2 separate regions of the Homo sapiens genome follow, and region 2 is linked to region 1. Evidence: fine-mapped expression QTL. A gene starts in region 1. The other region holds a variant in brackets. All regions are shown on one strand. Distances are between the middles of the regions.

Region 1 (2,896 bases):
GTCTCTGTCTTAAGAGTGGAGCATGTCTTAAGAGCTGGCATGAGGATCAGAGGGTCCCTTCAGTGCGGCCTTCTAGAAGAACTACAGCAACCAGGCCCTCGCAGGGGGGAGATGCACCTGCTGGGGCTAAGGAGCGAGTGAAGCCAGCCCCTGAGACACATGCTCCCAACCCCATCCTCACCTCCCAAGAGAGGGGGAGCCTCCTGTTAAGCATCCAAGTCCCAAGTCACCGGCCGGCATCGGCTGCAGCTCTCTGTGTGTGGAGACATCTCATTCTGGTGTCTTCTTTACACAGGTCAGCGCTCACAGGCTCGGCTGTGTCTCAAGACCCAATTCCTTCGAGTCACTGAGATGCCCAAGGACAAGGGCAACAGAGAGTGTGAAAAGCTGGAGTAGACAGGACAGAAAACAGGGTGCAGCGTCCCCCAGGTTGGCAGATAGCCCAGCCCCAGGGACCCCACAGCCATGGCAACCTGTGTGAATGAGCCCCAGGAGCAGGGCAGTACACGATCTGCGCGACTGTGCGGGGCAGCCCTGGGTCTCTGCCTCAGGGGAGAGATTGTGTCCTCGCCTTTTGTGGTTTCTAGAGGTTCCTGCCCTCCTTGGCTGCACGGCATCTCCCAGCCTCTCTCTCCCTTCCGTCGTCCCCTCTCCTCCTCTGACCCTGACCCTCCCAGTCCCTCTTAGAGGGGCTGTGATTAAACTGTGCCCACCCTGACCATCCAGAATAATCTCCCATCTCAAGGTCCTTAACAGCATGTGGAACTGCACTAGCCGCCCCAAGGCCCCCAAAAGGCAACCCTGGATTGGGCCCCCCAAGTTGCCTGGGATTCATGGCCACCACCCGGCTCGACGGCTCCAGACCGAAATGCACCCAGTTATAGAAACAGACAGTTGCCTCTTGAATGTGCACATGTGTGAGGAGAGTGTCACACCCGTCGAATTAAGGTGGACCCGCCATGAGTGGGGGCAATGCTGGCCAATGCCCACCTGCCCAGCACCCACAGCTCTCGGCCTGGGGCTCCCTCTGTCTCTGGAGCCCGCACTAAAGTGTGCGTCTCCATCCACGACTGGCAGGGCTTGGGGCATAGACATCCCGCTGCCTTGCCTGGAGGCGCCCCAGGCCTCCACTCCCACACTGTCTCAGGGCTCCCCGGGGCTCGGCTCTCCTTGCTCACAGTGGTCCGGGCTGGGGTTCCTTCTTGGTTGCATTTCCAGCTGTGTTCTTTCCTTCACTTTCTCACTCTCCCTTGCCTCAGGGTCTGCATCTGGGGGTCCACTGGGGAGGACTCAGCCTCTCCCGCGTCCTCCATCCCACACACCTGTCCCTGGGCAGCCACGGGGAACAGGAGCACAGGGGACAGCAGGCAGAGGGCAGCGCCCGGGCGAAGGGGACTTTCGCCCTTGCTTCATGCAGCCCTGGCACCCGCAGCAGGGTAAGACGAGATCCCAGAGGAGGAGTCTTGGCCGCAGAACTGCAGGGCCAAGGCACCAGCCGCTCGGGGGCCTGGAGAGCTCAGGTCACAAACTTGAAGTCAGCTGCCCAGGAAGCAGCCTCAGCTGGGGGTCACAGGCCAACTGGGCAGTGCCCTTGGCCACACCTGTGGAAGGAGGACAGAGGAGGGCAGGGCGGAGGAGGGAGGTGCTGGGCTGCAATGTCACCTCTACAGACCTCGGCTGATCCCAAGGGGGTCCACAGTGGATATGGTCCTTCAGGGGTGCCCTTGAAGGCAGGAAGGGGACAGGACTTTATACTGTTCCTCCCACCCCTTCGAGCAGTCACCAACTGCAGCCCAGATGAGGTCAACAGGTACAGAAAGGAGGGGGTGGGACAGGAAGGAGGGGCGGGACAGGAAGGAGGGGGCGGGACAGGAAGGAGGGGCAGGACAGGAAGGAGAGGGTGGGACAGGAAGGAGGGGCGGGACAGGAAGGAGGGGGCGGGACAGGAGGAGGAGATGGGAACAGGGAGGTGGAACGGGAAGGAGGAAATGGGACAGGAAGGAAGAGATGGGAGCAGGAAGGAGATAGGACTGGAAGGAGGAGATGGGACTGGAAGGAGGAAATGGGACAGGAAGGAGGAGATGAGGCAGGAAGGAGGAGATGAGGCAGGAAGGAGATGAGGCAGGAAGGAGGAGATGAGGCAGGAAGGAGGAGATGAGGCAGAAAGGAGGAGATGGGACGGAAAGGAGGGGATAGGACAGAAACGAGGGATCAGGGTCCTATTCTAATCTCCTGGGGGCATGATTGCAGGGGGTGACATGATTACTTCCAGCCAGCCCTACATGAGCCACCTCGTCCATGGAGTCAGCCCCGCCAGGGCAGCAGAGCCCTGGGTTCGCACAGGGAGCCAGGGTGGCGTGGGGCCTGCATTGCAGACTCCATTTGTCCACATCAATCACTTCTCTACGGCCCAAATCACCCTTAGTTGCCCAGTTCCTGCTCCGCGGCAGTCTGGCTCCTGCTGGCGCCCCAGCCATCTGTCTGCATTAGAGAATGATGCTTGCCAGGGCCTCAGGGAGGTGGCACGGATGGGCAACACTGTGCTCCCGGACCAGGTGACAGACACCACCTCATGCCCCATGGCATGGACCTCCACCTGTCTGATGGCTTTGCCCCAGCCTATCTGATGGCATGGTCCCTGGCCAGTCTATCTAATGGCGTGGTCCCCAGCATGTCTGATGGCGTGGTCCCCAGCCTGCCTGATGGCGTGGTCCCCAGCCTGTCTGATGGCATGGTCCCCGGCCTGTCTGATGGCGTGGTCCCCAGTCTGTCTGATGGCGTGGTCCCCGGCCTGTCTGATGGCGTGGTCCCCGGCCTGTCTGATGGCATGGTCCCCGGTCTGTCTGATGGTGTGGTCCCCAGCCTGTCTGATGGTGTGGTCCCCGGCCTGTCTGAT
Region 2 (2,896 bases), 780 kb after region 1:
TGCAGCCTGCGCCTCCTGGAGTCAAGCGATTCTCCTGCCTCAGCCTCCCAAGTAGCTGGGATTACAGGCGCCCGCCACCACGCCCAGCTAATTTTGTATTTTTAGTGGAGACGGGGTTTCACCATGTTGGCCAGGATGGTCTCGAACTCCTGACCTCAGGTGATCTGCCCGCCTCGGCTTCCCAAAGTGCTGGATTATGGGCGTGAGCCACCACGCCCGGCAGGATGCTGGCTTTTAGTTCATTTAAATAGAAAATAAACCTGAACTCCACAGACACCATCCAGAGTGATTACAGGTGGCGTCCAAAGGTCAAAGGGCAGCCTCCACAGGGTTTCCTTCCTGGTTCTGAGACTTCCCAGGGACAGCAGAACTTCCTTGCACTGGTCCCAAGGAAGCCCCTCTTGGCCACCCTGAGAGGTGTTCCTGTCCCCAGATGCCCAGGAGGAGCAAGAGTGTGGGGACCGGCCCTTGCCGTTCCTCCTCCAAGTCCACCCACTTCCTGCCCCAGGGAGATCCTGAGGCCAGGAGGCAGGCTGGCCCAGGCAGGCTGATGGCGGAGGGTGGTGGGGAGGGTGGGGGGGCCCTGGACTTTCCCTCCCAGTCCTGGCACCTTGCAGGTGGAGAGGGCTCTTCAGGAAGGCATAGTTGGCCTCCTGCAGACGCGCACCTGGCCGGCAGGCACGAGGGTCTGCTGAGCCTCGCAGAAGTCCAGGAGGCTACGCCAGAGGGGGCAGCAGCGCAGAAGGAGGTGGTCTCCTGTGAGGGTGGGAGTCAGATGGGAGTCAGTCAGGGTCAGGTGGGAGGAGTCAGGGTCAGGTGGGAGGAGTCAGGGTCAGGTGGGAGTCAGTCAGGGTCAGGTGGGAGGAGTCAGGGTCAGGTGGGAGGAGTCAGGGTCAGATGGGAGTCAGTCAGAGTCAGGTGGGAGGAGTCAGGGTCAGGTGGGAGGAGTCAGGGTCAGGTGGGAGGAGTCAGGGTCAGGTGGGAGGAGTCAGGGTCAGATGGGAGTCAGTCAGAGTCAGGTGGGAGGAGTCAGGGTCAGGTGGGAGGAGTCAGGGTCAGGTCGGAGTCAGGGTCAGGTGGGAGGAGTCAGGGTCAGGTGGGAGTCAGTCAGGGTCAGGTGGGAGGAGTCAGGGTCAGGTGGGAGGAGTCAGGGTCAGATGGGAGTCAGTCAGAGTCAGGTGGGAGGAGTCAGGGTCAGGTGGGAGGAGTCAGGGTCAGGTCGGAGTCAGGGTCAGGCAGGAGTCGGCAGCTCCCTAGCCCAGCCCTGGCCTCACCTGTGTTCCCACCCTGGAAGAGCCCAGCCCCGCCCTCACCGATCAGGCAGAGCCCCTCCTGGGCCCGCGTGACAGCCAC[A/G]TTCACTTGGTTGGGGTCCACAACGAAGCCCAGAAACTTCTTGAGCCAGCTCTTGGTGGGCCGCTGGTCCAGGTCGCTCTTGGCACAGGTGCGGACGGTGCTCACCAGCACATAGCGCCACTCGCTCCCTGCGGGATGGGAGGTGAGGCCCTGCTGCCGCTGCGCCCACCCTCCCGGCCCCACCCACGAGCCCCCAGCCTCACCCTGGCTCTTGGTGATGGAGGACACGGCCACCCCGGCGATGCCCTCTCGCCGAAGGGCCTTGCTGATCTCAGAGGCCTGCGCGTTGTAGGGCGTGAGGACGGCGATGTCCTGGGGCTCTACGGTCCTCCCCAGGGTCAGCTGCTTGGTGATACGGACCTGAGGAGCCGAGGGGGCAGGTGGAGCGGACCCTGGTGTCTCTCCTGCCCTCCTCCAGGAAGCCCTCCCTGACTCACAAGCACCAGACACTCACCACCTCAGCCACCTCCTCCAGAAAGCCCTCCCTGACTCACAGGCACCAGACACTCACCACCTCAGCCACCTCCTCCAGGTTGGCCTTGGAGTTCTCATTCCCTTCGTCCGTGGACACCAGCAGGCTCCGCTCGTGGCCCTGCACGTGGCCAAAGATGACAGGGCAGCTCTCCTTGCCAGCGTGGCCCAGGACACTGGGCGGCCTCCTCAGGCCCTGCCACGTCTTCAGCTTGCTCTTGTAGAACGCCACAGAGGGGAAGGCACAGATGCCCTCATGCTGCAGGCAAGGATGTGCGCTGGTCAGAGGCTGCCACGCGGGGTTGTGGCCCCCCAGGGGCTGCAGGTGGGCTGGGGGCTGAGTGGGGCGGGCTCACCATGCGGTACTGAGTGTCCAGCATATGTGCGTCCTCGTGGTACCGCTCGAACAGAGACCGGTCCAGACCCAGGTTTTGCAGCCGCTCATTCTTGACCACAGGCCGCAGCTGCTTGTGGTCTCCGAGAAGAACCACCTGGAGGAATAGGCAGGCCTGGCCCTGACACCCCTAGACCCAGAGGGACCCCAGCCCCACACGACACCCGCGTCTGCACACACAGGGCACCCCAGGTGGGAGACTGTGCCAGGGACGCCTGCTCATGCTGCCCACACCCCCCGCCGACCAACCTTCTCGGCCTGTGGGAACTGCACCAGGGGGATGAGGGTTTCAGGTTCCGTGGCCATGCCTGCCTCGTCAACAAGGATCTGCCTCACGTCCAGGATTTTGAGGCTGGCAGAGGCTGCACAGGAGCAGGTGCAGAGGATGACCTCATGCCGGTCCAGCTCGAACTTCCGAGCCTCCCACAAGACCTTCTTGTACCTGCCGGGGACACTGCTTGTCACCCCAGGGCCCCCATGCTGCAGGCAGCTCCACCCCCTGGCCCCTGCCACTTACCAGACCAGGTCCTCCCTGGAGAAGAGCTCCCCTCTCTGCAGCCGGGTGTCAAAGGCCTTGATTTCCGACGAGTAAGGGTTGGGGGCCTGCCGGATCCGGTGGTGCAGGGTGATGCTCCTGGGGGACAGGACACAGTGAGCCCTGTCCACGCAGGGCCATCA

Evidence for each region. PIP is the estimated chance that this variant, and not a neighbour inherited with it, causes the effect. A credible set is the group of variants that fine-mapping cannot tell apart.
Region 2: its variant is the best candidate, but not a certain one, in a credible set for the expression of LINC00659 in naive CD8 T cells (Schmiedel 2018, PIP 0.54).

The regions. Positions count from the first base shown.
Region 1 is chr20:62,775,134-62,778,029 of GRCh38, forward strand. It overlaps LINC00659 (long intergenic non-protein coding RNA 659), which reads right to left and starts at 1,723. Exons shown (of 3, transcript NR_046225.1): 1 at 1,673-1,723; 2 at 182-253. RefSeq lists a silencer at 1,030-1,191.
Region 2 is chr20:63,558,615-63,561,510 of GRCh38, forward strand. It overlaps HELZ2 (helicase with zinc finger 2), which reads right to left. Exons shown (of 20, transcript NM_001037335.2): 14 at 2,736-2,852; 15 at 2,468-2,660; 16 at 2,181-2,315; 17 at 1,865-2,083; 18 at 1,557-1,713; 19 at 1,314-1,481; 20 at 1-756. The coding sequence ends at 632. Among named protein-coding and RNA genes, the nearest start is that of FNDC11, 5.9 kb to the left of the region's middle. The variant A/G (reference allele first, on the strand shown) is at 1,354.